Homo sapiens: one gene and its partners. The protein of the gene in region 4 interacts with the protein of the main gene of each other region in a biochemical or structural test. Each region holds a gene or a part of one and is shown on either strand. Other genes may lie near its edges. The genes, in order: CD2BP2, LCK, CD58 and CD2.

Region 1 (8,768 bases), on a different chromosome or scaffold from region 4:
TTGGGGACAGAGCTCTCAGCCCGTGACTGCCCTCACAGTCTTCCCCAACCCCCACAGGCAACAGGACCTGTACCGAATCCTGAAGGCCTACACCATCTACCGGCCTGACGAGGGTTACTGCCAGGCCCAGGCCCCCGTGGCTGCGGTCCTGCTCATGCACATGCCTGCGGAGGTCAGCGCCCTGGTCCTGGGCCGGGAGGGGCAGGGGGGATCTCACCCTACAGTGGTGATGGGGGAGCTCCCTGCTCCCTGCTTCTCAGGCCCCACCCCTCCTCCTTGTTCTTGCTCTTCTCAGCAAGCCTTTTGGTGCCTGGTGCAGATCTGCGACAAGTACCTCCCAGGTTACTACAGTGCAGGGCTGGTGAGTGTCTGGAGGCTGGGTGCATCCGGGGCTGTGGCGTTTCCTCCAGGCTGCAGGCAGGTCCTTGCCTTGCCCCACCCTGGCCTTCCCGGCTTCTGCCCACAGGGCCGGCCAGTTCTCCCCTGATGGGGGCACAGCTGACTTGGCCCTCTTCTCATGGCTTGTCCCACCTGCAGGAGGCCATTCAGCTGGACGGGGAGATCTTTTTTGCACTCCTGCGCCGGGCCTCCCCGCTGGCGCATCGCCACCTGCGGCGGCAGCGCATTGACCCTGTGCTCTACATGACGGAGTGGTTCATGTGCATCTTCGCCCGCACCCTGCCCTGGGCGTCGGTGCTGCGTGTCTGGGACATGTTTTTCTGTGAAGGTACTTCTGTGGCCCTCCAGGCCATGAGGGGCTGGGGTTTCTGTGGTGGCTACCAGGGGTTCTGTCATATTTCTGGTGGTCCATGGACAAAAGGTACTTGTTGGGTGGAGGTTTCACCATAAGCAGCTGGGGGCTGGAGAAACAGGCCTGATTTTAGTTCTGCCACCAACCCAGAGCCTGCTCTCCCTGCCAAGATCCTGAGACTGATAGCAGCTCATGTACTTTCACAGGGCCTCAGTTTCCTCATCTGAGATTGGCAGTAGATGGGGATGGGGGCTGTGAGTCTATCCTGATCAGGACAGGCTGAGATCTTGGGTCTGACCACCCCATGCTCTCTACTCTCCACCCCTGCAGGCGTTAAGATCATCTTCCGGGTGGCCCTGGTCCTGCTGCGCCACACGCTGGGCTCAGTGGAGAAGCTGCGCTCCTGCCAAGGCATGTATGAGACCATGGAGCAGCTGCGTAACCTGCCCCAGCAGTGCATGCAGGAAGACTTCCTGGTGCATGAGGTAGGCCTGTGCCCTCAACGCAGCCCCTGCCTGCCTCAGCCCGCTCCCACCCTCAGCTCCATTCTGGTACGCATTTCCTCTCTGTGCAGGTGACCAATCTGCCGGTGACAGAAGCACTGATTGAGCGGGAGAATGCAGCCCAGCTCAAGAAGTGGCGGGAAACGCGGGGGGAGCTGCAGTATCGGCCCTCACGGCGACTGCATGGGTCCCGGGCCATCCACGAGGAGCGCCGGCGGCAACAGCCACCCCTGGGCCCCTCCTCCAGCCTCCTCAGCCTCCCTGGCCTCAAGAGCCGAGGCTCCCGGGCAGCTGGAGGGGCCCCGTCCCCGCCGCCCCCCGTCCGCAGAGCCAGTGCTGGGCCTGCCCCAGGGCCTGTGGTCACTGCTGAGGGACTGCATCCATCCCTTCCCTCACCCACTGGCAATAGCACCCCCTTGGGTTCCAGCAAGGAGACCCGGAAGCAGGAGAAGGAGCGGCAGAAACAGGAGAAGGAGCGGCAGAAACAGGAGAAGGAGCGGGAGAAGGAGCGGCAGAAGCAGGAGAAAGAGCGAGAGAAGCAGGAAAAGGAGCGAGAGAAGCAGGAGAAGGAGCGGCAGAAGCAGGAGAAGAAGGCTCAAGGCCGGAAGCTTTCGCTGCGTCGAAAGGCAGATGGGCCCCCAGGCCCCCATGATGGTGGGGACAGGCCCTCAGCCGAGGCCCGGCAGGACGCTTACTTCTGACCTCTGCCCTGGGGCTGGACTGCATGGCCCCCCTCTTTCCCTCAGCCAAGAACAGGCCTGGCCCAAGGTGCCACCCCCTAGCACCTTGTCAGGCTGTCCCTTGCTGGGGAAAGTGGCTTGGTTCCCCATCTCCTCGCCAGCTGCTGATCCCTACACGGGCAGGACAGATGGGCAGCTGCAAATGAGTCTGGAGCCTCTCATCTCCCATGAGGCTCAGCTGGGGTCTCTGTCGCTCCTGCCCCAGTTCCCTCTGGGTCCCCTCCTAGGTGCTGTCCTGAATGGCCCGTTGTCATCCCAGGGGTGACTCCTGGTGATGGGAGTCAGCAGTTTCAGATTCTTACACTCCATAGCTCCCCTTACCATGAGGTGGAGCTGGCTTCCTTTTCCCTGTCTTCAGCCCTCCCTGTCTCCCCCACTTCCTGGCCAGGGCTCTCATTCTGGACCTGTGTTGTAATTGTGTACAGAGGATGGCGTTGGCCTGGGGTGGGGGTGCTCGCTTTGTCTTCTGTCCTTTGGTTCTCCTTCCATAATGCTCCTGTACCCAGTTTATTTAAGGGGACATGCACTGGAATAGGAAATGTCCCCCATCTCCCTTCCTGCACCCTGCTGTGCTCCCTCCAAACCCACCTTGCTCTGTGTTCTCAGGCCCCCCTGCTTTTGTCTCACCAGGACCCATACCTTTCACCTTGTTCCCTTCCACCCCTCCAGTTAGTCCCTATCTGGGTAAGGGTCTTCCCTTGAGCTCCAGGGGGTGGAACCCAATGTTTACATTCTCTTCTGTCTCTGCCCCCACCCCATGCAGCGCTTTGAGGAATTGGAAAAGAACCTGCTGTTGTACCTGGGCCTGTTTTCTGCCTTGTTATTTGATGAGGGGGGGATGGGGTAAGGACGAGGGAGGGAGGGACAGAGCCAGGACCTGGGTCTCTGTTGAAGCAGTCTGCTGTCTTGGCAAGTAGGTACCTCTTAGCTTTGGGTCCATCTCTCAGTCACTCATCAGACACTGGTTGAGCTCCTGCTCCATCTTTGCCTGGGATCTGCTGTCTCCATTGTCACTGGCTGCCTGGAGCTCTCTATGTACCACGTGCAGCACCCGGATCTCCTTCCCAAAGTGCTCATGCAACTCCTGGAAGCTGGAGGGGGTACTCACAGTGGCTAGAAAGCCACTGTCCTCTGGGGATGAGATGGGTTCTTGGCCAGTTGCCTGGCACAGCTCCCAGTATTGGGTTTTGGTGGGGGGGGAGGGGGGACAGCAGCCCAGCCAGCCGCCTCCAGCTCGCGCCAGCCAGTGCCCACAGCCAAGTCTCCAGCTCTTCCTGGGTTTCTGCAGCCAGCTTGTAGGCCCGCCCACCTGTGCCCTCCACCCCAGGGGTCAGGATGGTAAAGGCATAGGGTTCTGCAGCCTTAAGGTGTGGTTCCACCTGGCAGTTCTCTAACAGGATGAGGCTCAGGGGTGCATGGTCGGTCTAGTGTTCTAGGTAGAAGAGGAGGTTTCCTCGGAGGATGAACCATCGGCGCTGGTAGCTGAGGTTTCGGGTCCCCTTCTTTAGCAGAATGCCTTCCTGGTCTGGGGCCTGTGTTCTGTAACCATGGAAGAAACTGAGCACGGACTTTCTGTGCAGTTTTCATCGTGATCCAATATGGGAGGAAACCCCTAGGGAGAGAGAAGTGGCCCATCTAGTTGCCTGGGGGAAGAGTAGGGGAACTCTCATGCTGTCCTCGTCTGGCTTCAGCACGTGCTGCCTGCGCACAGTCTTGGCTTAGGGGGATGCAGGCTCCGAGTGTCAAGAGCTAGGGGTCCCAGCACAGGGGCTGATCCCCGCTACCTCCCCAATTCCCCCTTCTGCTTGGGCCACATTCCGCTACCTGGGCAGGAGTTGCTAGGCCCTGTTTGCTCAGGGGGGCTTCATGCTGCAGAGAGGCACTGTTGCCCTTTTCCAGGCCTACCTGAGAGCAGGGCACAAGGGGCTTCTGGCCTGAGTACTGGCGCCAATGCCACCTCTCCAGTGATGGCTCTCCCACCTCAGAAACCAGGAACTCGCCCAGGGTATGGGCGTGGGACAAATTATTTCCCCTGGGTCCTAAAGGGAGGTGTGTTCAGAAAGTGCCCGGAGAGCCGTCCAGGGGCCCCAGGCTGGCCATCGGGAGAGTCAGGCTTCCCCTCGGAGAGGCAAGGCTGCACCTCTCAGGCTAGGAGGGCTGACCACTGGACCATAGGAATGGGAAGGCAGGATTTCTAACGAGACGGTAGGGGCGCTGAGCCCTTAGCCCTGGGGGAAGGGTGACTTGAACCCAGGACAGGAAAACGGAGCAGCAACCCACTGACCCTGCTCGGACTTTGCCCCTCCATCCTGACCCTGGGCGGCCCTTTAAGCAGATGCGCTCCAGTTTTTCTCCAGAGCCTCTACTGCTTGAATGACGGACTCGAAGCTACTTCCGGCCATTTCTCACGCCCAGTCAGAGTCCAGGAATTCTTAGGTTCCCTCTTCTCACCATTGTCCTCCCACGTGACTGACGTCACTTCTGGCGGGAGAGAGGGTGGAGGCGTCTTCGCTCGCTTATCGCATACTTCCGCCCGCTCTTCCAGTTAGTTCCCTAACCCGAGTGAAGCCACTTCCGGGCTTCCCGGGCGCCTTCCGCAGTCCTCTTCCGGGTGATGGCGGCCGGGTGCCCCGGATGTAGCCCTGGCGCAAGCATCTCTTCTTTTTTCCACCTCGCCTTCCGCGGATTCCCAGGTGAGTGCGCGAGGGTGGGACCGCCCGAATCCCCGTGGCCCTCTAAGTTGTACACAGCCCGGGACAGTTGGGGCTCACCACACGGAATTGGGAGTTCGGAGCAGGGAGGAACGGGGTGGCGAGAGCGCCAGGTCCTGGGTCTGCCGGGGCCCGGCGAGCTCCGAGAGAGCCAGGGTAGAGAGCGGGGGTCAGCCCGTGGAGCCGGTGGCGCGCAGACTGCGGGGGCTGGAGTTGGGGGCGGTCACGTGGTGAAGCCTGTCTCCTTTCAGCCAGGGTCGGGGGATCCAGAGGGTCCGCTCCTCCGTCCCCGCCCCGTTTAACTCGCGGATGCTAGACCCAAGTCCTGGAGGCCTCCTGGCTGCCAGCTTCCTTTCGGCCCCTGCTTTTGTGCTCCCTCCGCTCCCAAACTGTACCTGTCACAGACCAGGAAAAATGTTTGCTGTGCTGCGTCTGTTGGCGAGTCCCCTCCTCACCCGGTTCCCTTCCTCTGCATCCTTTCCTCAGCTTGAGAAACACCTCTTTGCCCCGTCATGCCAAAGAGGAAAGTGACCTTCCAAGGCGTGGGAGATGAGGAGGATGAGGATGAAATCATTGTCCCCAAGAAGAAGGTGAGGGGGCCAGACTGCTTTGTGTGGGGGAAAGAGGAGCTAGAAGCCTGAAGAGGAAGAAAGCTGGCGGGAGAGGGGCGGGGCGGGCAGGCAGAGAAAAGCCTAGTTTTTTCAGGTTCTCTGAGGAATGGGTTGGGAGCGTCTTTAGTGTGGCTCCTGAAATATTTGGGGAAGTAGTCGAGATCCTGAAATATTTGGGGAATATTTGGGTCCAGATCCGGAAGTATTTGGGGAGGTAGCCAGTAACCTGCATTTCTCAACTTTCTGGCTCCTGCTCACAGCTGGTGGACCCTGTGGCTGGGTCAGGGGGTCCTGGGAGCCGCTTTAAAGGCAAACACTCTTTGGATAGCGATGAGGAGGAGGATGATGATGATGGGGGGTCCAGCAAATATGACATCTTGGCCTCAGAGGATGTAGAAGGTAAGCTGTACCCAAGAATACACTCTGCTGGAAAAACAAGTAGGGGCCTCTGGTGGTGTGGAGCGAGGGAGGCTCCGGTCTCTTTTTTCCATGCCTGGAAAAGGGCACCTGTGTCTTTGGTGCAGGTCAGGAGGCAGCCACACTCCCCAGCGAGGGGGGTGTTCGGATCACACCCTTTAACCTGCAGGAGGAGATGGAGGAAGGCCACTTTGATGCCGATGGCAACTACTTCCTGAACCGGGATGCTCAGATCCGAGACAGCTGGCTGGACAACATTGACTGGGTGCGGCCCAGGGGCTGGCGTGGCTGGGGCCTGGGAGTGGCAGATGCTGGGCCTGCTCCCGTGGCAGTTGGTGGGAAATCACTCCATCTTCCCATTACAGGTGAAGATCCGGGAGCGGCCACCTGGCCAGCGCCAGGCCTCAGACTCGGAGGAGGAGGACAGCTTGGGCCAGACCTCAATGAGTGCCCAAGCCCTCTTGGAGGGACTTTTGGAGCTCCTATTGCCTAGAGAGACAGTGGCTGGGGCACTGAGGCGTCTGGGGGCCCGAGGAGGAGGCAAAGGGAGAAAGGGGCCTGGGCAACCCAGTTCCCCTCAGCGCCTGGACCGGCTCTCCGGGTTGGCCGACCAGATGGTGGCCCGGGGCAACCTTGGTGTGTACCAGGAAACAAGGGAACGGTTGGCTATGCGTCTGAAGGGTTTGGGGTGTCAGACCCTAGGACCCCACAATCCCACACCCCCACCCTCCCTGGACATGTTCGCTGAGGAGTTGGCGGAGGAGGAACTGGAGACCCCAACCCCTACCCAGAGAGGAGGTGAGCTTGGAGGACAGAGGAGGGGGCAGTGGGTAGGAAGTGAGACACTGGAGGCCAAATGGCTTTGCCTGTTATTTTAGAAGCAGAGTCGCGGGGAGATGGTCTGGTGGATGTGATGTGGGAATATAAGTGGGAGAACACGGGGGATGCCGAGCTGTATGGGCCCTTCACCAGCGCCCAGATGCAGGTGAGCTGCTTTCTCCCTCCTCCTGCCTTGTCCCTGCTTCCCCCACTCCTGTCAGTTGTTCCCCAGCTCTGCCCTCTCCTTGCAGACCTGGGTGAGTGAAGGCTACTTCCCGGACGGTGTTTATTGCCGGAAGCTGGACCCCCCTGGTGGTCAGTTCTACAACTCCAAACGCATTGACTTTGACCTCTACACCTGAGCCTGCTGGGGGCCCAGTTTGGTGGGCCCTTCTTTCCTGGACTTTGTGGAGGAGGCACCAAGTGTCTCAGGCAGCGAGGAAATTGGAGGCCATTTTTCAGTCAATTTCCCTTTCCCAATAAAAGCCTTTAGTTGTGTACTGGGGCCTTGGCTGTGCTGATGGCCAGAAGCCAGGGGCCTTCTCCACAGTCCCTTTGGACTTGTCTTGGTCCCTGAGTACTCCCATGAAGATCCTTCTTGGAGGTGCCTGTCAGGTATCCTGTGGCCTCCCTGCCTGGACTCTGCTTGCCGTGTAAACACCCCCAACTGCGCTGCTCTGTGCTCCTCTCCCAGGTTTCTTGTTCGATTCCTCTTAGGTCTTTGGCTTTCAGGACCTCAGATTCTTTATCCTTGTAGCCACCAGAGGACAGAGCCCCAGAAGTGGATGTTTTAGGCCCAGAAGGACCAGGGCATCGAGAAGACATTGGGACCCTGTTGGGGGTGAGCATGGAACCCTCTTACTCTCGCTTCACCCTCTCAAGCTCCTTAGATGCTGGGCAGAAGTGGGATGAGTGGCCCAAGACCGAGATCCCTAAGGTTCTGAGAGCCAGTGTCTTCCCTAATCTGGCTTTCCTCTATCCTTGCCGTCGTTCCCACAGCCCTTCAGTGAAGTGCAAACTCAGTGGCCAAGTGTGGGCCAAGTGTGCATTGTACTGGCACAGAGAGGGGCAGTGACTCACTGGAGATCACAGGAATCAAAGGGCTGGCCCAGACCCAGTGGGCTCCTTTCCCAGACCTTTCTTGGCACAAAGCCTTTGCTGCCTGGCCTTGGAGGCCCTGCGGCCTACATTCTCTGGACCCCACTATGTGCCTGGCACAGGGCTAGTGCCTTGAGGAAACTGAGGTAGCTGGGTTGGTCCCCTTCCAGGAATTCAGAGTCTGGTGGCAGGGGCATGGGAAATAGACAGATGTAATTCTATAGCCTGGGCCTGGCACCCTCCACCTCCACGCCCCACCAGCATTGCCTTACGCCTCCCTTGCCCCACGTTAGATGGTTTCTTCCGGTTTTGCACTCTGGCTGCCCCTTGGAGTCTCCTGGGGAGCTGTAATATCTCTTTGGAGATTCAGATTGAGCTGGTCTAGGTTGTGGCCCAGGCATTGGGCATTTTGGAAGCCCCCAGGTGTTTTCAGCTTGCAGCCAGGCCGAGAGAGAGCCCCTGAGTCAGATCCCCATGGTTTAGGCACACCTAGCGGGAGGGGTGGCTCCTGGACCCCACCGTGGTTGGAGAGCTGAGCATGTGTGTGGCTTTAGTGGGGTCTGTTAGTTATGGGGGTCTGGGCACTGGAGCTGCAGGACACTTGGGATCCCAGGTCAGAAAGGGCCAGATGAGCAACTAGGAAAGACTTGGGGGCCAGGGCGGAGTGGGGTCACCTGACACTCTTGTGAGGCCCCTTCTAGTGCCTGCTCACACCGGAATTTCATTCACTCCAAGAAGCCATCAGGGGTAAGATACCTTCCTTTAAACGTCACTAAGAAAGAAGAGGCCTGCCGGTGACACAGTAAGATGCCATTGATCTAAAGATGCGTCTTGATTTCAGAAAGGTCCGGAAGTGGAAAGCAGGTTTCAGGGCTGCTGAGGTACAGGGTTCTCCTGTAGGCCCCAGGGATGGTCTCAGGGGTGCTGAGTGCGTGCGTGGTAAATGGATGGAGCCCAGGGGCGCCTCCTGCCAGTGTCCTCCAGGCACTCAAACCTAGCCCTTCTGAAGCCGACCTCACGTGACCTCACAGCCCCTCCTGAAGGCGCCTCACTGATGACGGTGGGTGGAATAACAGCCCCCAGAGATGTCCAGGTTTGGAACCCCAGGACGTGGGAAA
Region 2 (8,664 bases), about 84 Mb from region 4:
CTCAAAGACCCCTCCACCCCTTAAGCCAGCCTCCCCCAACCCTGGCTCAGCAATACTGAGCCTCGAATTTTGTCCCAAGGGCGGCCACCCCGAGCTGGTCAAGGGCCGCAGGAGGGCTGCGGGTCGCGGAGATCGCCGCTCCCTCACGGACTCCGCCAGAGCAAGGTGGAGAGGGACTCACTGCTCCAGGATGCGGAGCTGTTCCCCCTTCTCAAAGCCCAGATCTCCGTCGTGAGAGGGCTCATAGCTGTGCAGAGCGATAACCAGGTTGTCTGTAAAGACAAGGGGCATCAGGGAGAACCGAGCTGGGATCGGCAGGAAGCCTGGAGTTACAGGGTGGGGGACAAGGAAGGCAAGACCGGGGAGAAAGTAGGTGGGGGAGAGGTGGAAGCCAACAGCCAGGGATCCGCAGGCCTTGTCTTTCAGGCCCTGCTGCCTGGGGTCACCTTGCAGTGGGGAAGCCGGCGGATTGGAGCCTTCGTAGGTAACCAGTGGGTCCCGCACCTCAGAGCCATTTCGGATGAGCAGCTGTGGAGTGGGGGATGAGGGTGGGGTCAGAAAGCAGAAGATTGGGTCAGACCCTGGCCCCCTTCCCCCCTGCTCTGCTCTCAGCCTCTCCAGCCTGGTTAGATGTTATCCCTGAGTTTACCAACTACTTTCTGTGTGATCTTAGGAGATTCCCTTCCCCTCTCTGGGCCTCTTTTCCTTTCTGTATTTCAGGGGAGAGGGCCACTCTATTCTTTCAAGGGCCTGTAGTGCTGGTCATTTCTTTCTCCTGGGTTGCATTCTCTACCCAACTCCCTCACCAAGGCCCCTGTCTCGCCTCTTACCGTGCCCTTGCCATCCAGTGGGACTATGGGATAATGGCAGTTCTCACACACATCGATGTTTTCCATCCAGTCATCTTCCGGGTGTGAGCTGCAGCCACAGCCCATGGTCCCTGAGGGAATGGAAGAGGGGGCTGAAGGGGCTCCCCCAAGATCTGCTCCCCCAACATCAGATATAATGGGGCCTTGCCCTGGAAAGTTCCAAAAGTACCTGAGATTGTGAGATCCTGGGATCCCCATTCACCAGCCACAGAAAAGCTAAAATAGGGGGTCCCAGCTCCAAACCGGTGCTCCCTCTGAGCCCTCAGGCTACAAGTAAATTCACACACGGCCCCTGAGCCCTAGCCCCACCCTCCCACCTGGGATGGGCAAACCGCCACAGGCACCTTTGTTAGTCTAGTTACCCACTTCCTGCCTCTGCCCCCTCCCTCTCCCTCTGCCAGTACCCTGTGTTGGGAGGACCACCTCCTAGAGATGACACACACTTTCCCAAGCCTGGGAGAGACCTGACTTATCAGACCCTCCCCTACTGGAGAGGTGTGCACGCCACACCTCCTATTATAATTCCCCTGTCTAGCTGAGGAGGCTGAGAAAGAGGCTTCTGCTCCCGAAGTCCACCATCAAGCCCCCGCTGTTCCCCTCACACAGCCCACAGTCATCTCACAGGGTTCCTTCAAACACGGGCTTGCTTCTCCCCAGCAGAAAACCCTCCAGTGACTCTGTTGGCCATAACTTTTTTTTTGTTTATTTGCCTGTTTTAGCAGTGGAAATTTTTTGTCTGATGAAATCAAGCAGAACTCCATAGATAAAGTGATAAATGTGTGCCTGTTTTGCCTGAAGCAGAGTGGGGCCCTCACTTTGAAGCCCCCGGAGTCCCTGCAGCTCCTCCTTCTCTAGGGCTGCTCCTCAGAGTGCTTGGAAAGCGCTGTCCTCAAAGTTTAATGTACCATGCATTCCAGACCTTTCATATCAAGATGAAATCCACCTCCGCAGTCTATTCTGCCACACACACACTCTCTCACACACACACACTCACACACACCCTATACATATACACACCCTACACACACACACTCTCACACACACACACAGAGGCACCCCCTATCCCACCTCCACAGAGGCATCCACACACACACACTTTCACATAAACACACACACTCACCCCTCACAGGTACTCCCCCACACACTCACACACAGACTCACCCTCCCACACACAGGCACCCACACTCACACTCAGTAAACACATACACTCACCCTCCACAAGTGCCCCCCCACACACACACTCACCCCCCACACACAGGCACCCACTCTCACACACGTACCCACACACACATTCATGCACACACCCTATACATACTCCCCCTACACACACAGGCTCCCACACCCAGGAACACACACACTCGTCCACACACCCACACAGTCACACCCACATACACACACACACGCATTCACCCCCACACACACGCACTCACCCCACACACACACATTCTCCCCTCCCCAACACACATTCATACACACACACAGGCACCTCCACACACTCACCCACACCCATGCACACATCCACACACTCACCTTACACACACACACAGGCATCCCCTCCATAGATACCCCCACACACCCACACTCACACACACACAAACACCCACACACAGGCACCCCCACACACCCCCACACACACAGCCTGTGTTCTGAACTATTCTTGCCTTTCCCAAACACCCCATGCTATTTTCTTACTTAATGCCTTTGTACTTGTGGTTCTCCCTGCTTTGAAATGCGTGCGCTCTCTCGCTCTCTCTCTCTCTCTCTCTCTCTCTTTCTCTCTCTCTCTCTCTTTCTCTCTCTCTCTCTCTTTCTCTCTCTCTCTTGAGACAGGGTCTCCCTTCCTCTCCCAGGCTGAAGTGCAGTGGCGCAATCCCCTTAGACCTCCTGGGCTCAAGCAATCTTCCCACCTCAACCTCCCCAGTAGCTGAGACTAAAGGTGCACACCATCATGCCCAGCTGATTATTTTTTTGTAGAGATGAGGTCTCACTATGTTGCCCAGTCTGATCTCGAACTCCTGGGCTCAAGCAATCCTCCTGCCTTGGCCTCCCCAAATGCTAGGATTATAGGCATGCACCACCGAACCCAGTCGGCATGCTCTCTTTTGTCCAACTGCTGAATTCTAACTCAACCTTCAAGGCTCAGCTGAAATATTACCTTTTTTTTTTTTCCTGCAACCTCTACCTCCCAGGTTCAAGCAATTCTCCTGCCTCGGCCTCCTGAGTAGTTGGGATTACAGGCATGCACCATCACGCTTGGCTAACTTTTGTATTTTTAGTAGAGACAGGGTTTCACCATGTTGGCCAGGCTGGTCTCGAACTCCTGGCCTCAAGCAATTCTCCTGCCTCAGCCTCCCAAAGTGCTCGGATTACAGGCACCTGGCCTAAATATCACCTAGTCTGAAGACTTCCCAATGCTCTTTGCTTCCCTCTCACCCCAGTCTCCTGCAACATTCTATTCAGACCTCAATAATCAACTTAGACACAGAGTTCCATGATTACTGATTTACATGTCAGCCCCAGGGTCCCACTGCCTCTCCCATACCTTTGATGAGAGTGGGGGTTCATCAAGAGCAGAAGCTGTAGTTTATTTGTCTGAAAGCCACCAGCACCCAAAATTAGTTAATAAATGTCAACTGGAACATGCAGTGTTAATGCATAGAGTCTCCCATCTGCAAAGGTCTTAGAAACCAGCAAGCCTAATCTCCAATTTTATTATTTGTTGATTTATTTTTGAGATAAAGTGTCACTCTCTTGCCCAGACTGCAGTGCAATGACCCAATCCTAACTCACTGGAACCTCAAACTCCTGGGCTCAAGTGATCCTCTAACTTCAGCCTCCTGGGTAGCTGGCACCACTGAGCCCAGGTGATTTTTTATTTGTTCTAGAGATGGGGGTATTGCTATGTTGCCCGGACTGGTCTCAAATTCTTGGCTTCAAGTGATCCTTCCTTCTTGGCCTCCCAAAGTGCTGGGATTACAGGCATGAGCTGCCATACCTGGCTAAACCTCTGATTTTAGATGAGCAAACTGAGGCCCACAGAGGTATGCTTAAAGTCACACAACCTATTTGGAGTAGAGCAAAGCTGGAGTTGCTGGCCGGGCGTGGTGGCTCACATCTGTAATCGCGGCACTTTGGGAGACTGAGGCAGTAAGACCATTCAAACTCAGAAGTTCCAGACTAGCCTGGGCAACATAGTGAGACCTCATCTCTAGAAAAAAAATCAAAAAATTAGCCAGGTGTGATGGGGCATGCCTGTAGTTCCAGCTACTTGGGAGGCTGAGGCAAAAAGATCACTTGAGCCCAGGAGCTCAAGGCTGCAATGAGCTACGATTGTGCCACTGCACTCCAGCCTGGATAACAGAGCGAGAGCCTGTCTCAAAAAAAAAAAAAAAAAGGCCAGGCGCGGTGGCTCACACCTGTAATCCCAGCACTTTGGGAGGCCAAGGCGGGTGGGTCACAAGATTAAGGGATCGAGACCATCCTGGCCAACATGGTGCAACCCTGCCTCTACTAAAAATCCAAAAATTAATCGGGCTTGGTGGCAGGTGCCTGTAATCTCAGCTACTCAGGAGGCTGAGGCAGGAGAATCGCTTAAACCCAGGAGGTAGAGGTTGCAGTGAGCCGGAATTGCGCCATTGCACTCCAGCCTGGCAACAGAGTGAGATTCCGTCCGTCTCAAAAAAAAAAAAAAAAAAAAAAAAAAGTCCGGGCACGATGGCTCATTCCTGTAATCCCAGCACTTTGGGAGGCTGAGGCGGGTGGATCACGAGGTCAGGTGTTCAAGACCAGCCTGACCAACATGGTGAAACCCCGTGTCTACTAAAAATACAAAAATTAGCCAGGCATGGTGGCACACGCCTGTAATCCCAGCTACTCAGGAGGCTGAGGCAGGAGAATCACTTGAACCCGGGAGGCAGAGGTTGCAGTGAGCCGAGATCAAGCCACTGCACTCCAGCCTGGATGACAGAGCGAGACTCCATCTCAAAAGAGCAGGCTGGGCACGGTGGCTCATGCTTGTAATCCCAGCACTTTGGGAGGCCAAGGTGGGTGGATCACCTGGGGTCAGAAGTTCAAGACAACCAGCCTGGCCAACAATGGTGAAACCCTGTCTCTACTAAAAATACAAAAAAAAAAAAAAAAAAAAAGTTAGCTGGGCATGGTGGCTGGAGAATTGCTTGAACTCAAGAGGTGGAGGTTGCAGTGAGCCTAGATCCTGCCACTGCCACCGCACTGTTCACTCCAACTTGGGTGACAGAGACTCTGTCTAAAAAGAAAAAACAAAAGAGAGACAGAGAGAGAGAATTCATGCTGGGTCTAAGTGGAAGCAGGGAGCAGTGGAAGTTTCTCATTAGCAAAACTCAGAAGACTGTCCCCATAGTTAGAGACCTAAGTTCAAATAGCAATTTTGACACTTACTGTGTGACTTTGCTGAAATCATTCCTCCTAAGCCTCACTTTTCCTCTTCTGTCAAATGGGGCTCTTCATCCATTTCTCATAAGCTCACATGAATGTTAGCTTAGTTTAGTGCTTAGAAACACTTTCACCAGTGCACAATTCTGTCCTACCAACTCCTGCTTTGGAAGGTGGAAGAATGGGACTGGGTAATTAATCTCCTTTGCTTTAGACTCCTGTTTCTTTCTTTTTTCTTTTTTTAATAGAGTCTCGGCTGGGCGCGGTGGCTCATGCCTGTAATCCCAGCACTTTGGGAGGCTGAGGAGGGCAAATCACATGGTCAGGAGTTCGAGACAAGCCTGGCCAACATGGTGAAACCCTGTCTCTACTAAAAATACAAAAATTAGCTGGGCGTGGTGGTGCGCGCCTGTAATCCCAGCTTCTTGGGAGGCTGAGGCAGGAGAATTGCTTGAACCATGGAGGTGGAGGTTGCAGTGAGCTGAGACCACGCCATTGCACTCTAGCCTAGGTGACAGAGCAAGATACCATCTCAAAAGAAAAAAAAACAGACAGAATCTCACTCTGTCACCTAGGCTGGAGTTCAGTGGTGTGAACTTGGCTCACTGGAACCTCCACCTCCCAGGTTCAAGTGATTCTCCTGCCTCAGCCCCCTGACTAGCTAGGACTACAGGCATGTGTCACCACGCCCAGCTAATTTTTGTAATTTTAGTAGAGATGGGGGTTTCACCATGTTGGCCAGGGTGGTCTTGAACTCCTGACCTCAAGTGATCCACCCACCTCAGCCTCCCAAAGTGCTGGGATTACAGGCGTGAACCACCATGCCCAGCCTAGACTCCTGTTTCTTTTCTCTCTTTCCTTTTTTTTTTTTTTTTAGACTTGCTCTGTTGCCCAGGCTGGAGTGCAGTGGTGTGATCTGGGCTCACTGCAAGCTCTGTCTCTCCTCCCTCAGCCTCCCTAAGCAGGTGGGACTACAGGCGTGCACCACCACGCCTGGCTAATTTTTGTATTTTGTGTTTTGTATTTTTAGTAGAGACAGAGTTTTGCCACGTTGGCCAGGCTGGTCTCGAACTCCTGACCTCAGCCTCCCAAAGTGCTGGGATTACAGGCAATGAGCCACTGTGCCCAGCCCTAGACTCCTGTTTCTTTTCTTTTCTTTTTTTTTTTTTTTTGAGACGGAGTTTTGCTCTTGTTGCCCAAGCTGGAGTGCAATGGCACGATCTCGGCCCACCGCAACCTCTGCCTCCCAGGTTCAAGCGATTCTCCTACCTCAGTCTCCCAAGTAGCTGGGATTACAGGCATGTGCCACCACGCCCGGCTAATTTTGTATATTTATTTATTTACTTATTTATTTATTTACTTTTATGGGTATCTGGTAAGTATATATGTTTATGGGGTACATGATATATTTTGATAGAGGCATACAATGTGTAATAATCACAAAAGGGATAAATGAGCTATCCATCACCTCAAGCAAGCCTCTTATTATTATTATTATTATAAAAACTAGCTGGGCATGGTGGTGCATGCCTATAATCCCAGGTGCTTGGGAGGCTGAGGCAGGAGGATCACTTGAGCCCAGGAGTTCAAGGCCACAGTGAGCTACGATTGCACCACTGCACTCCAGCCTGGGTGACAGAACAAGACCCCTTGTCTAAAGTAAATAAATAAATGAATAATAATAATAAATTTTTTTAAGTTTTGAAAAGAAGCCCAACATACTGCCAGGCATTTGCATTTCTCTTTCTGCATTTGCATTTCTCTCATTACTTTTTTCTTTTTTATTTTTTTTGAGACAGAGTCTCACTCTGTCTCCCAGGCTGGAGTGCAGTGGCGCGATCTCAGCTCACTGCAACCTCCGCCTCCTGGGTTCAAGCGATTCTCCTGCCTCAGCCTCCCTAGTAGCTGGGACTACAGGCGCGTGCCGCCACACCTGGCTGATTTTTTATATTTTTAGTAGAGATGGGGTTTCATCGTGTTTGCCAGGATGGTCTCAATCTCCTCACCTTGTGATCCTCCTGCCTCGGCCTCCCAAAGTGCTGGGATTACAGGCGTGAGCCACTGTGCCCGGCCTTATTATTATTATTTTTTGAGACAGAGTTTCGCTCTTGTTGCCCAGGCTGGAGTGCAATGGTGTGATCTCGGCTCACTGCAATATCCACCTCCCAGGTTCAAGTGATTCTCCTGCCTCAGCCTCCCAAGTAACTGGGATTACAGGCGTGTGCCACCACACCCGGCTAATTCTGTATTTTTTAAGAGACTGGATTTCTCCATGTTGGTCAGGCTGGTCTCAATCTCTCGACCTCAGGTGATCTGCCCGCCTCGGCCTCTCAAAGTGCTGGGATTACAGGCATGAGCCACCATGCCCGGCCTAATTTTGTATTTTTAGTAGAGACAGGGTTTCACCATGTTGGTCTGGCTGGTCTTGAACTCCTGACTTCAGGTGATCTGCCCTCCTCGACCTCCCAAAGTGCTGGGACTACAGACGTGAGCCACCGTGCCCAGCTCGACTCCTGTTTCTTAAACTGAGATACTCAGCCTCCCATGGGTACCGGAAGTCATGTCATGGTGTGCATTTTTCCAGAGCATGAGTGTTTCCTGACCTTATTCATGTAAGTTAAACAAACATGACCTATTATGGAGGAAAATGCAAAATGTGCATGGAATTTTAAATCAAATCAAGAAACTTTCCAGGAAAAGGGTACGTATTCACTCTTTCCCCTACTGTTAGGAGTCCTGGGGGGAGGTGGACATTTGGGAAATCCTGCTAGACCAGAGTGCACCCATCTGTGACTGCAAATGACTTTTTGACTATTATAGCCTGAGAGTAATTAGCAACAAGAGCCCCCAGTAAAGGACTAACAGCAACCTGGAACTGGTCTCAGATAAGCTGAGCTGTTTTGTGAGGTAGTGAGCATCCTGTTGTTTGTGATAGTCGTATGAGCCTTAGGAAACCACAAGTTGGTTGTGTTGTAAAGAGAATACCAACATCAGATGGAATGTGGACTTAGACCAGTAAGGTCCCTGCCAGGCTTGACATTCTTGGAGCCTTTAGAAAAAGGCAAGAGAAAGATTGTAGAAGTTTGAGGTTAAGAAGAGGGAATGTATAGGAGGAAGGGAGAGATGGGAAAGAAGAAGAAGGAGGAGAAAGAAAGGGAGGGGGAAGGGGAGGGGGAGGGGGAGGAGGGGGAAGAGGAGGGGGAGGAGGGGGAAGGGGAGGGGGAGGGGAGGAGGGGGAAGAGGAGGGGGAGGAGGGGGAAGGGGAGGGGGAGGAGGGGGAAGGGGATGGGGAGGAGGGGGAAGGGGAGGGGGAGGAGAGGGATGAGGAGGGGGAGGAGGAAGAGGAGGAGGAGGTGAAGGAGGAGAGGAGGTGGTGGTGGCGGAG
Region 3 (6,657 bases), 250 kb from region 4:
ACCCTATTGACTAAGCTTCTGAACCACTAGCATAGTTCTAGGGTCAGGCGGATGCCTACTGTGGGCAGGAAAGTGATGCATGCATGTGTGGGAGCAGTGTCTTAATGTCTGAAATAGTAGCCATGAGCTACATGTGGCTATGGAGCACTTGAAATGTGGGAGTCCAAATTATCATGTGCTGTGAGTGTAAAATAATATGTTTCTAAGACCGTGTGTGAAAGAATATAAAATATCTCATTAAAAAATGTTTATATTGAGTACATGTTGAAATAATTTTATATTTGTGACACATTGTGTTAAATAAAATATTAAAATTTACATTTTTTTTTACTTTGTAATGTGGATACCAAAAATTTTAAATTACTTATGTGGCTTGCATTATATTTCTATTGGACAGCACTGGTCCAAACTATTCTAGCCTTCCCTGCATCTTCAGCCTTATGCACGAGGTAAAATTAGCCATTTTGTCAACAGTTTTTGCATTTGGTTTTCTATCATGTTCTGACCAATTTTTGAACAACTCTTTGGACCAGCTCTGTAGCCGATTTGATTTAAAGCATATAGGATAGCAGGAAATCCCAGGGTGATGGGGCTCTGGCTTAGTTTTCCATATTTAGGCCTCTAATAGGCAGTCAGTAACTCCACATTTCACCTTTTCTTTTCAGTTCTTTAATTGAGAAGACAATTTCTTCATTTTTAGGTATTCTGAAATGTGACAGAAAACCAGACAGAACCAAGTAAGTACACTGCAGGCTGTGCACTCTGTGCCAGAACAACAGCAGCCCTGCTGTAGATGCCCATTACTTGGGAAGCCAGATTGTACTCATCTGTTGGTTGCCTTGTACAGTAATAAGAAGTAACATCAGCAGATATACTAACCATAGTGTATTAAGTACCAACTGTGTGCCATGCACTGCACTAGCCACTCTCTGCATATCGTTTCCTGGAACCCTCTCAATGAGCCTTGCAGGAGGAGTATCATACCCCTTGCTTAGAGACAGCGCATATGAGATTCATAGAAGTCAAGTGAGATATCAAAGTCACGTTGCTAGTAAGTGATGGGCTGGGATTTAAATCTAGGTCTTTGGACTCCAAGAGTTATACTGTTAACCACTACAATACACTCCCTCCACCTCCCATCCCAGAAAAAGTTGGATCAGGGATAGGGTTCACTTCAGGAGCCAGGGTCAGAGCTGGGCCTGTAGTCACATATAAAAGATAGGACACAAACACAATTAGCAGCAGTGTTGGTTTAATAAACCGCCGTAGGGTGCTCCAAGAGGCCCCCTCCTGGCAGATCCCACTGGTGGTCAGGAGGCAGAGGCATGAGCTGGGTGTTGAGGGATGAGGGGAAGAGTTAAGGCCCAGGGTGTGAAGGGCAGGACAAGAAGTAGCAAGCCATCCTCTTTGGAGCAGAGAGTGTTGAGGCATTAGAGAAAGATGGGGCTGGGCTGGCAGGTTGGGCCAGGCTGAGACTTTGAGAGAGGCTTTGGGTCATTCTTTAGGGAGAACCGCAGAGTTTTCTAGCAGAACTATGCTTTAGTAAGATCACTCTGCTGGCAAAGCATGGGACTAATTAATAGGAGATGAGATGAGGACACTGGTTAGTGGAGTAATGAAATAATCCAGCCAAGCAGAGAAGAGGGCCTGAGTCAAGGTGATGGTGGCAGAACTGAATATGCAGAGCTAGGTTTGAGAGAAACAGCAGAGGTCCTGTTAGCAAAACTTTCATCTGGCAGTGTAGGCTCTGATGCCAAACTCCCTGGTTCAAATGCCAGCTCCATTTCTCACAGGCCTTGGACAAGTCACTTAAACTCTCTGTGCTTTGGTTGTCTTCTGTGGAAAATGGGCATAATGATAATATAGAAATGACAATGATAGCATAGATAATCACATAGAAATAACTGTGTCAAAATATATTAATATAAGTACAATGCTTACAATAGTGGCTGGCTCATAATAGTTTTCAATAAATGTTAGCCATTATGACTATTGTTACTATTATTTTTCAAGAAAAATAAAAGCGACAGGACCAAGTGTCACAGAGGAGTCACACAGGAATCTTGGTTGGGAAGGAAAATTATGAATTTTTGCTTTGACAGGTTGATTTTGGGGTGCTGGTGTATTACCTGGCTAGTGATGTCCATGCACAGAATTGGAGCGTGGGCTTCACGCTAGAGTTACGGATTGGGGCGCCTCTTCATCTGGACAGTAATTGATGCCGTGAGCACCTGAGGTCACTAAGAAAGAAAAGCTAGATGCCCTAGGGTGATGGGAAGAGGCAGAGGAGGCGGGACTGGGGAAGCAAAGTCCAGGATCAGAGCCAGGGTAGCCCCGGGTTAGAGACTCGAGGGAGGAGGCTACATGTTAAAGCTGCAGAGACAAGGAGGTAGGCGAGGGGTTAAGACCTTTGGTTTTGTGGAGTCGGTTGCTGTGGTCAGTGCAGGGATGAAGTGAGGGTGGCTAAGCAGCAGCAAGGGCCTAGGTGAGGTGGGATCGATGGATGGGCCACAGGTGTCCTTTCTCCTCAGCTGCCAGGTGGAACAGTGCAGGAGAAACAAGCTGTGGCAGGAGGCCTGGGGGCAAGGAAGTACAAGGGGCAGCTCAGCCGGCCACAGACCCAAGCTGGGAGGACCCAAGGCCATGAGGGGTTGATGGGCCAGGAGGCTGGGCAGAGAGGAGCCAAGTAGCTGGAGATGAGGTGAGGTGGGAGAGGTAGGGACCTCCAGGCTTGTGGTCAGAGGAAGGCATTTCAGATCTGAGCAATATGCGTGAGCCCCAGGTGAGTGTGAGAGCCAAGTCAGGTCTCTGCTGAGATCTAGGTGGTTACAGTGGAGGGGAACTCTGAGTGGATGGGGGAGGCATAGCCATCACTACCAATGATGGGGGTAGGGGGGCATCATCCAGGGCCACGGGGAAAGGGGATGGGCATTCTGGAACTCATCCCTTCCTCTGTTCCTTTCATCACAACAAACGTTATGGAGATTATGCGATACCAGGCACTGTGCTAGCTGATAGGGTGGGGGTCAGAGTACCCAGCGAGGCTAGACATTGTGTGGGATTCAGAGAAAGCATATAATAGGGCTCCTCCCACAAGAAGCTTGTGGCCACACCAGGGAGAGAGAATGGATGCACATGAGCATACGAAACTCTTAGAAGGACTTAGGCAGGAAGCACAGGTGATAGGCAGAATGTGTGATATGAGGGTAAGGGCTGAGCAACCAACGCAGAGGAATTGGAGAGGCCAGAATAATCAGAAAAGCTTTGGAGGGGGTAGGATGTGACCTACATTTTCAGAACAAGAGTGGAGTAGAAAAGGCATTCCAGGTGGGATAAACAGCGGAGGCAAATACATGAGAGGGAATTAAATCTGTTGTGATTTATTTGATAGTAAGATTGACCTGCCTGGCATCGAGTTGAAGTAGAGGCAAAAGACACTGAATATTTGCAAGGAGGTCCTTAGAATGGAGTGATATGGAAATAAGCAGCCATTATAGGTTCTTGAGCAGGAACATTTTGCATGAAAAGCACTGCTTTGGAATGATGAGTCTAGAAAGGTAACACTGACCTCTCTAAGGTGGCATTCTAGGGAGAGACCTGAGTATTTGGGGCTGAGATTGAGAGAGGAGCTTACTTTTCTTGGTATATTTTTATTTACTATTCAAGTTCTGCATCATGTGTGTTTACTGCCTATTTAATAATTATTTTTAAATTTAAAGAACCCATTGTGGCAGCAGGGGGAATTCTCTAAGCTCAGTTACTAAAGGGTTATGAAGCTGGGTATGGTAGCACACACCTGTAGTCTCAGCTACTTGGGAGGCTGAGGTGCGAGGATCGCTTGAGTTTAGGAGTTAGTGGGAGGATTTCTTGAGCCCAGGAGTTAAGAGACCAGCCTGGGCATCAAAAAAATTAAGTTAAATTAAAATGTTAAAAGGTTCTGTATATGGTGGAGATGGAGGAGATCGGGGGAGGAGATGAGAAAGGGGCAAGCATAAGTAGGAACAAATGCAATATTTCCCCAGCTGCGCGAGGGCAGGAGCAGGAAGAACTAAACCCAATTAGGAACAACAGAGGACAGATGAGTAGATAGCAGACATCTGACGGGAAATGGCCACGCCACACTTCTCACCCAGGCAGTTCAACGTAGGCAATTTCTGAGTGCCCTGGTATTTTTTGTGTAAGTGTCTAGAAAACAGATCACAAAGTTAGCCAAATTAAAAAGGAAGCAGGGAGTCCTATTTCTCCGAGAAGAAAGATTTACAGGTGGGATCTCAGGCAGGAGCCAAGCTGGAGAAGCAGGCTTGATTCCTTGTAGTGGGTGAGGAGACTGCTGGGAGAGGGCAGGGAAGCAGAGACCGGCAAAAAGCTGCCCCAACAAGAATCCTGTGCCTGCCAACCTGGTTTACAAACATTTCCCACTTTATCCCCCTCAGAAAGTCACAGCACCCATTTCATGTTCTGTGAGGCTCCCAAGGAGGGAAACTTCTAGTTTGCTGTCCTTTACCTCACCCCTGTGACCACAGCACTAATTTCTCATGAATTCTTGTTACCAATGAGATACAAATGTTTGGGGAGCTCTGGCCTGGTCTGATTTTGAGCTCTGTGGAAATACGCAGACCACGGGGGAGGAGGCCGGGAAATGGACTCGGTTTGAGGGCTTGCTCAAGGATGCGGTTTTGTTTTTCGGCTGATTTACTCCAAGACAGCCAGAGATTGTTCTGTCGTTGCCACAGAGGTGACTAAACAGGAAGGTAAGTTTGAGGTAGGAAGAAAACCATCCCCAGGAGTTTCATGTAGCAAAGAAGGAAGTAGCTGTTACAAATGGGTGACAGTTTACATGTGGGTCTAACAGTCTCAGCTCTGTTGTTCAATCTTTCAGTTATACTCAGAGAGTAAGCGGGAGGAGCCTTGGGGCTGCTATTGAGTGCAGCATCCTGAAGGCTGTTCTTCAAGTGTTACTCAGACTACTATCCCAAGAGCACTCAAGGCAGTTCTTCCTCCATCCCTGCTCCCTAGCTCCCTTGGCTTTGATGAGTTTATTACAAAAGGGCTATTCACTTTAGAATAGGAGGGTAATTAAGACTCCTGGTCTGCAGCCCAGATTTACTGCATTTTACAAGTTAATAATATGATTTTTTTTTGTAGCTCCAATTGATTGGTAACAGAAGATGAAGACAACAGCATAACTAAATTATTTTAAAAACTAAAAAGCCATCTGATTTCTCATTTGAGTATTACAATTTTTGAACAACTGTTGGAAATGTAACTTGAAGCAGCTGCTTTAAGAAGAAATACCCACTAACAAAGAACAAGCATTAGTTTTGGCTGTCATCAACTTATTATATGACTAGGTGCTTGCTTTTTTTGTCAGTAAATTGTTTTTACTGATGATGTAGATACTTTTGTAAATAAATGTAAATATGTACACAAGTGACTAGGTGGTTTGGCTACTGTTTTCCTAAGATAGAAAAATAAGGGTCACATACCCTTTTAAAATCTATACTCTTTCTCCCTTGCTTTAGGGGAAAAATAATTCATTGTAGGGTCATTCATGGAGTGAGGGAGAAAAGTACTGTCCCTCACTGGGTTCCACTGCTGTCAGTACGAGGCAAGTGAACACATGGGTCTTTACTTCTAGCTGCTTTTGAAAAGAGCAGATCACCACCATCCAGTGCAGTTGTATAACACAGGTGGGGCAGGGAGACTTCTCTCGCTGCCATTAATTAGCCTACTTAGTTTGTTGCATTGGTTAGCTGTCACATTGGGAGGTCAACAGCAGACAGTAGCTGGAAAACCGTAGTCATAACAAATACAGAGTGGCAGCCACTCCTGAAGTGGTGGACGGTGCCAGTTGCCTCTGGCAGCCATGTAAACCCAAGTCAATACATAGACGCTTTAGCTTGTGCCTGCACTGTCCCTGGAATTCCTGTCACATGAGAGTCTCCAGGCTGAAGGAAGAAATCAATATTTCTTGACTCCAAGATGGGCCTGTCAAGGTGGGTGGATCACAAGGTCAGGAGATCGAGACCATCCTGGCTAACACAATGAAACCCCATCTCTACTAAAAATAAAAAAAGTTAGCCAGGTGTGGTGGCGGGCTCCTGTAGTCCCAGGTACTCGGGAGGCTGAGGCAGGAGAATGGCGTGAACCCAGGAGGCGGCGCTTGCAGTGAGCCAAGATCAGGCCACTGCACTCCAGCCTGGGGGACAGAGCGAGACTCCATCTCAAAAAAAACCCCTCAGGCTACATGTGTTCTCTCTAGAACAGCCTGCATCTGAGCTCCCACAGGCCTCAGCAAGAGTGGGAAAGGAGCCCAGAGTGCTTCTGGGAAGACCCACATCTCCCCAGCTCCCCCCATCTCCATGTGGCATGGATTCCTATCCTGTCTCAGACTAATCTTGTCAAACCCTTTATCCCAGACCCTGTAGGAAGCCCATGACTCCCCTGGAGACTTCTGTCCCATGCAGCTCTGTAATGCCCCACTTTCTGCCCCCATCCATCAGCAGCGACATCCCTGATGTCCTCTTCTGTGAATGCCTCCTTTGCTTCGCTGTTCTAATCGAAACCCAGCTCTCCCTGGGGATGCTGCCTCCCACAGCCTCTCAAGGGGTAGCTGTGTTCTTTCCTGCATCCCTTGTATTCAGGGCCTAGGGGAAA
Region 4 (6,964 bases):
GAGCCCAGGGCTGAATAGACCAGGGAAGATTTTCTTAAGGGAATGGCGTATGAGCTGTTCTGGTGAGATAGCCAATGAAATCACTCATGGGTATCATGAAGAATGAGAAAGGGGCAGAGCTAGGACCCTCATCTCTCTCTCTCTCTCTCTCTCTCTCTCCTTTTTTTTTTTAGACGGAGTTTTGCTCTTTTGCCCAGGCTAGAGCGAAGTGACACGATCTCACCTCACTGCAACCTCCACACCCCAGGGTTCAAGCAATTATTCTGCCTCAACCTCCCGAGTAGCTGGGGTTATAGGTGCGTGCCACGATGCCCGGCTAATTTTTTTTTTTTTTTTTTTAAGTAGAGAAGGGGTTTCACCATGTTGGCCAGGCTGGTCTCAAACTCCTGACCTCAGGTGATCTACCTGCTTTGGCCTCCCAAAGTGTTAGGATTACTGGCACGAGCCACCATGCCCGGCCAGAGCCCTCATCTCTCTACTGGGTAGATCCTGTGGCAATTGTTACCTAGCTGGATTTTGTGTTTGAATTTTGGGAGGCGATGAGGTTTCATTCATCATTGCCCTTAGTAATTAACTCTGGTTGCTGGAAAAATAGACTCTCAGATTCAGAGGAAAAAGTAGTTCAATCCTCAGTGAGCTGTCACAGGAAGTCCTGAATGTACTTAGTTTTTGTGGTTTAGCCCTCAGAGCTTCCTGCCAGAGTGTAACAAGGTTTAGCAAGTCTAAGAAGCCAAGGAGAAGGCGGGCAGACAGGACCACAGACAAGGCACCAGCATTTCAAAGCAGGTGCCTTCTCACCACCTATTGTTTTAGAACTCTAACTGAAAACTATTTTTTTCTCCCCACTTCCCTCAAAGTACAGCTGCATGACTGCTAGCTGGGGATGGGGTCTGACCTTTTAATCATAGTCATTTAAGACACTTAAGATTTGATTCAACTGAGTTGTCTCTTAGCCTATCTTTTTGTATGTCATCTGATGAGTTCATGACACCTCCAGTATCCATAGATTCCCTTGTTTTGAAGGATGACAGTACAGGTCATTATGACCGTGTCTGAACAGTCAAGAAAGTAAGACCTAAAATGTTAAGTTTTCTGGTGACTCCTGTTAACGTTTGTGCATGGAGGCTTTAATTCATTATGGAAATCTACAAATAGGTTGTTGGACCCAGCTTTGCAGCTGAGACCTGGGGAGCATGTTCGGGTCATTCTGGTGAGGACTAAGGAGGTCTCAGCCGGATTGAGTTGACTGAATTTGATCCTGCTGTCACACCAGCGAGGCTCTTTCTTATTCGGCAGCTTCCTCTCCTCGACACTGGGATCCTTCACACAATGAGCAGACACGGGTCTAGTCAAAGCTTTTATTTCACTTTTACTCACAGGATGGTGGGCAAGTGTCCACCAGGGCACATAAGAAACTCCAGAGTCTCTTAAGCAGATAGGCTGCTTGTAGTGAGACCCAGGCACACCAATCACTTGATTTATCGCATCTACACATGACCTGAGAGGGGACAAGAAATCTCTAAGATTTCTGTGCTCGGTCCTCTACCATTCTTGCAATCACACTTATATTGCTTCTCCTTACTGGTGTGATGGAGCTCTCTGAGGAGACCAAAAACTCCAGATGTTGACCACATGGCTGAGTTCGAAGATGCAGAGGTGGCTGTGGCCCACAGCCTCAGGAGGTGACAATGTTCTGCACACAGAAAACACCTCATGGAAGTACGGATATGCACATCAGGAGGGCAGAAATCCACAGTGCTTTTTATTGAAAAAGACAGTTTCTATCTTTTTTAATTAGAGGAAGGGGACAATGAGTTTTCTGCTGCCCCATGGGGAGGTTTTGGCTGAACTCGAGGTCTGGGGAGGGGCGGGCCTTTCTGCTGGTGAACTTGTGTGCCCGACGGAGCAGGAGGCCTCTTCTGAGGCTGGTGCTGAACACGGTGTCCAGGAGGCGGGGGACGATGACTAGGTGCCTGGGAACGATGACCAGGTGGTGGAGGAGGATGTTGGGAAGTTGCTGGATTCTGAGGGGTTGAAGCTGGAATTTGGTGGGGCTTCCGGCCCCTTTCTTCAGTAGCTACTCTGTGGGCTCTTGTCTCCAGCTCCTCATCTGCAACAACAAAACCTCAATAGAGTTCATCTTGGCCAGGTGAAATCAATGTAAATATTGAGTACCTTTTATATGCAAGGCGCCATGCTAGCTGCTTTGGGGGATGCAATGAGGAAGCAGAAGTTGCCCCTACTATCTGAGAACTCTAAGCTTGTAGGAGAGAAAGAAGTGCTCACCATAAGGTAGAGTGAAAGCCTAGGACAAGAGAACTCAAGGAATCAGCAGGAAGAAGACACATGGGTGGAGGGCTTTGTGCCTGGGGCTCCCATGATCAGAGAGAGCACGCAGACCTGGAACCCTACCTCTGTGCTGACCTAGAAATTGTTCCCTGAGAGCAAGAACCTCATGGTTAGAGCGCATGGGAAGGGGTTATGAGCAGTCATGGAGGATATTAGTAACTACATTCCTTCTGAGGCATTTCTATGTTAGATCTGCCTTTCCCCCAATTCTACTGTCATGCAATCCACCTTCCGGCAAGAGGTTGGAACACATGCAAGGAACTTTTTGTCCTTAGAAATTTACTCGCTTCTCAGAAATTCAAGACCTATGTTCTTGGCCTTAGGAGGGAAAGAACTCCTCCTCTCCTCACCCTTCAGGATTTTCTTCTTTGTGTGACTTCAGTCCATGAAAGCAGGCCTACAGCTACTCGTAATGTAGTTTTTCCTGTACTCTTAAAATCACAGGGAATCTGTGAAGGTGCCCAGCTGCTAGAGGCCTGGAGCACCCTGCTGGCCCCTCTGGACTCCTTTAGGCTGTAAGTTAGGTATTTCAGTCCCTGCACCCAAGGCCGTCTTTGCAGTGGCTCCAGAGGGAGGTAGGAAGAGAAGTTTTTCCCTGGGGTGAAATAATTACCTCTTTTTTTTTTTTTTTTTGAGTTGAAGTTTCACTCTTGTTGCCCAGGCTAGAGTGCAATGGTGCGATCTTGGCTCACTGCAGCCTCTGCCTCCCAGGTTCAAACAATTCTCCTGCCTCGGCCTCCTGAGTAGCTGGGATTACAGGCGTTCACCACCACGCCCGGCTAATATTGTATTTTTAGTAGAGATGGCGTTTCTCCATGTTGGTCAGGCTGGTCTCGAACTCCCGACCAGGTGATCTGCCTGCCTTGGCCTCCCAAAGTGCTGGGATTACAGGTATGAGCCACCGCACCCAGCTGAAATAATTACCTCTTACATCTTTATGGAGATGTGTGGCTGGGGAAGCACAAGCCCTCTCTAAGCATCACCCTGTAACTTCCGGATGTTGATTCAAACCAGATGGCCTCCTCTGACTACATGAAATGTGAGCATCAGATGGCTTTGAGTGTAGAGTCAAAGTTAGACAATGTGATTTTGATACCTAAATGGCTCGTGTGCTCTAAGCACAAAGAGGAAAGGGCCTCCAGAAAGGACAAAACACATCCTCTATGCCATCTTCCGTGCCCTGCAGTCATTGCTTAGGTTATGTCCAGTAGACTGTGGAGAGGGCTCTAACCCCTGGCCCTAGTTCTGAATTATGGGGCAGTGGGTGGTCCTTCTTCATCTCCTATGTGGCAAGCTTGCACTGGCCATTGGTTTACTACTCTGTTCACCCACTATTTTTGTTTTTTATTTGTTTTGTTTTTTTGAGACAGGGCCTTGCTCTGTTGCCCAGACTGGAGTGCAGTGTGTGATCGTATCTCACTGCATTCTTGATCTCCCGGGCTGAAATGATTCACCCACCTCAGCCTCCTGACTAGCTGGGACTACAGGCATACACCAATGCACCCACCTAATTTTTAAGTTTTTTTTTTAAAGTAGAGACCAGGTCTCACTATATTGCCCAGGCTGGTCCCAAACTCCTGAGCTCAAATGATCCTCCTGCCTCGGCCTCCCAAAGTGCTGAGATTACAGATATGAGCCACCACACTTGGCCCATACACCATTTGGTTCATTTGTCCTTCCAACATTTATTCCTCATCTTCCAAGTGTTAAGTGTCATTGTGACTTAGACACAAATTGTCCTCAGGAAGCCTAAAATCAAGTAAGAGGCAAACAAGAACTGAAAATCGCAATGTCAATTTCTGTGAAGAGCCCAGGGCCACCAGAAAGTGTAGACAGAGGCACATGAGCTCTGGTAGGAGGAATGGGGTGTAGCCACATGGCTGAGACTGCAGGCAGGGTTGGACAGACAAGGTTGGCTACGGCTCTGTGCACCCTGCCTGGTTCAAGCAGGACAGTGGGTCCTCAGCCTACCCACTCCAGCAGCTGCAGCTGGCGCCTAAATGTGTGCTCCCAGGAATTCCTCCAGGCTCATTGTCCTTCTCCCTTGTTTGCATCTCCTGGTTACTCAACCCAGGGCATGACTGGAATGAGGCAAGCGAGGCTGACAGGCATGCAGTTTAAAGACACACCAACTTTCAGGTTGTGCAAGGGCAGGCCAGCCTCCTTAAATTCTATGCCTTAAATTCTGGGCTCCTTGCCTCGGCCTAGGCCTGAGTCAACCTACTGGCCATAGGATTTAAGGCAAATAATTGAACCTCACTGAACTTAAGCTTCCTCATCTGTGTTGTTATCTATCTCCTAAGATCACTCTGAAAGCTGGATGCACTAATAGACATAAAACACAGAGACTAACGACTTTTTTATCAGCATGAGCTAACCATCATTCTTCTCAGCCTGGTGATGGCAGAGATTGCCTTGTCTTGGGGTGACAAGTGAGGTCCACCTTGGAAGAAGATATGGTCTTTGACCATTAGTCAATGGAGAAGGAGCATGGAGAGGAGCATGGAGAACAGCCAGAGCTGGGCACAGAGGAGGATAAGCCAGGCATGCCTAAGGGCCCTGCCAGCGATTCTGCTGTGCTGTGGTGGAAAGTGTGGGACAGTCGTGGTGGGAAGAATGGGACTAAGTTCAGGATGATGTTTCGGGGCCTGGGCTGGGGGTAGTGACGTGATGGGACGTGGGGCTGAGGGACCGCAGCCTGATGGGGAGGCAGAAGGAGAACTGAGGAAGAAATCTGAGGTAAAGAAGCCAAATCCAGAGGGCACGGGGCCCAAGGCCACCGGTGCCTGGGGAAGTTTGGACCACCTCCCTGGGCAGCACTGGAAGCAGCTGGTGTGGCTGTGCCTGCCGGTTCTAGGGAGAGACCAAGTCCTGCTGTGAACGTGAATTGCAGAGAACCCCAGGGCCTGTTCCCTTGGCTGCAAGTCCCGCCAATGGCTGACACCCTCATCTGTGCCCCCCACAGTGACCCCGGGTTGGCCATTCTCTGAAGTGTTCTGCCTTGGGTGGCCTGGATGCTCCCTAAGCCGGCTCCCCACTTGCAAGCATAACCTTTTCATTGCTGATAGATTGTCAGACAGGCCTGATCTGAGGAAAAACTCTCAACCCTAACACATCCCTCGAACAGAGAATTAGCAAAGGGGGCACAGGCACCCTGCTTTAGAACAGCTGTTTTCCTGTGACTACCTGATGACCTGAATGATTTTCCCTGTGTTTCTAGGAGCTTGGTCCTGAACTCACCTTGGGCCACCCATAGATAGGACATTTATTCCTAGAAACGGTGTTTTGGAGCTAACCTTTCTGCCTATGTAGAGAAGTGTGGCTCATTCAAAAGATGTTCACATTAGCCTGTCACCAAGTAGGCCTCAGTGGTGGATTCCAATGAGGCCAACTGGATTCAGTGTCTCAAAGCTCCCACATTGTCACCACTAAGAATTTGTTTTTCAAAAATCAAGCTAACCACAAAATGAAACAAGCTATAACCGCTGACTACAACCCTGACATTCCGAAACTACCTATTTCCATCATTTTCTCTGCAGATTCAAGGTGTCATCCCCATGAGCTGTTTCATGGGGATTTTGCTGGGGCCTGCGGTGGGACAAAAGAGGGGGAGCTTACCATTTCTCCGACTCCTCTGTTTTTTCCTTTTGGTGATATAGAAAACGAGCAGTGCCACAAAGACCATCAAGAGGCTGCCTCCTCCACATATGCCAATGATGAGATAGATGTCCAGACCTTTCTCTGCAAAAGGAAGAGAAGTGGGATGGCTGGGAGGGGTCCAGGCAGAGAGCCCATTACTCTGGCCAAGGATGCTGCCTCCTGCATCAAGCAGATAGAAGAGCTTGTTGGGACCTTTCACCCCATAACTCCCAGGCTCACAGAGGGTGGTGAGTGGTGTCAACCCTGGAAGGACCCAAGGTCCTTGGGAAGCTCCCTCTGCAGGCTCTTTGGGAAACTGCTCTCAGGGGCTAGAAATGCCTGATTGTTCATGCACCAAGGCCGGCCTGCCCACTGCCCCCGTCATGGAAAGCATCACGAAATTTTAGATCCGAGGATCTTAGAGATACTCTAAATGCAACCTCTAGCTTCAAACATGAGGCCCTGAGAGGGAGAATGAGTTGCCCGAAGCCACACAATATCTGTTCCTGAGCATTTCCCTTAAGCAGCCCCTTGTCTCGGTGTTTCTGCACTGTTGATCCTGCTCTCGTCTCTGGCTACCCCCACTGCACCATGATTCCTTCTCACTGTCTCTACCAGGCAGTTTCCAAACACTCAGGGTAAATATTTCACTTGTCCAGCCCAGCACTCTGACCTCACGGCCAGCACCCTCTCACAGAGTTTCCCTGGAGCCACGAGAGAAACCCGGGTGCACAGTGCGTTAGTAACAGCAGTGGGCTTAGTCTTCAGTTGCTGGACCTTCAGTCACTGTAATGCAATGAGGAAAACAGTGACTTTGGTGTTAAGGGAAATGGGTTTGGTCTAGGCTTTTTTAGGCAGGAGCTGTGTGAACTTTGGAGAGTTACTTCACCTCTCTGAGCCTGTTTCCTTCTTTGTAAAGTGGAGATAATGAAACCTACATCATAGGGTGGCTGTTGGAAGTCAATCAGATAATGGA

Evidence for each region.
Region 1: the proteins of CD2 (region 4) and CD2BP2 interact in a biophysical measurement, tested with the Homo sapiens proteins (6 studies listed by BioGRID and IntAct, with this or other methods).
Region 2: the proteins of CD2 (region 4) and LCK form a complex in vitro, tested with the Homo sapiens proteins (one study listed by BioGRID).
Region 3: the proteins of CD2 (region 4) and CD58 form a complex in vitro, tested with the Homo sapiens proteins (3 studies listed by BioGRID and IntAct, with this or other methods).

The regions. Positions count from the first base shown.
Region 1 is NC_000016.10:30,351,131-30,359,898, reverse strand, and holds the start of CD2BP2 (CD2 antigen cytoplasmic tail-binding protein 2), read left to right. Parts: upstream 1-4,590; 5' UTR 4,591-4,687; intron 4,688-4,964; exon of another isoform or gene 4,965-5,191; 5' UTR 5,192-5,217; coding exon 5,218-5,295; intron 5,296-5,576; coding exon 5,577-5,715; intron 5,716-5,840; coding exon 5,841-5,998; intron 5,999-6,098; coding exon 6,099-6,531; intron 6,532-6,611; coding exon 6,612-6,718; intron 6,719-6,803; coding exon 6,804-6,914; 3' UTR 6,915-8,768. Other genes in the region: TBC1D10B (TBC1 domain family member 10B), read left to right, coding at 58-172, 296-361, 538-727, 1,082-1,236, 1,326-1,955. UniProt on the Homo sapiens protein: Involved in pre-mRNA splicing as component of the U5 snRNP complex that is involved in spliceosome assembly.
Region 2 is NC_000001.11:32,266,601-32,275,264, reverse strand, and holds part of LCK (tyrosine-protein kinase Lck), read right to left. Parts: intron 1,145-8,664; exon of another isoform or gene 1,068-1,144; coding exon of another isoform or gene 936-1,067; coding exon 831-935; intron 529-830; coding exon 447-528; coding exon of another isoform or gene 273-446; coding exon 182-272; intron 1-181. UniProt on the Homo sapiens protein: Non-receptor tyrosine-protein kinase that plays an essential role in the selection and maturation of developing T-cells in the thymus and in the function of mature T-cells. Plays a key role in T-cell antigen receptor (TCR)-linked signal transduction pathways.
Region 3 is NC_000001.11:116,513,311-116,519,967, reverse strand, and holds the end of CD58 (lymphocyte function-associated antigen 3), read left to right. Parts: intron 1-665; exon of another isoform or gene 666-700; coding exon 701-737; coding exon of another isoform or gene 738-741; exon of another isoform or gene 742-1,268; intron 1,269-5,145; coding exon 5,146-5,155; 3' UTR 5,156-5,434; downstream 5,435-6,657. UniProt on the Homo sapiens protein: Ligand of the T-lymphocyte CD2 glycoprotein.
Region 4 is NC_000001.11:116,763,610-116,770,573, reverse strand, and holds the end of CD2 (T-cell surface antigen CD2 isoform 2 precursor), read right to left. Parts: intron 6,169-6,964; coding exon of another isoform or gene 6,091-6,168; coding exon 5,968-6,090; intron 2,111-5,967; coding exon 1,791-2,110; 3' UTR 1,345-1,790; downstream 1-1,344. UniProt on the Homo sapiens protein: CD2 interacts with lymphocyte function-associated antigen CD58 (LFA-3) and CD48/BCM1 to mediate adhesion between T-cells and other cell types. CD2 is implicated in the triggering of T-cells, the cytoplasmic domain is implicated in the signaling function.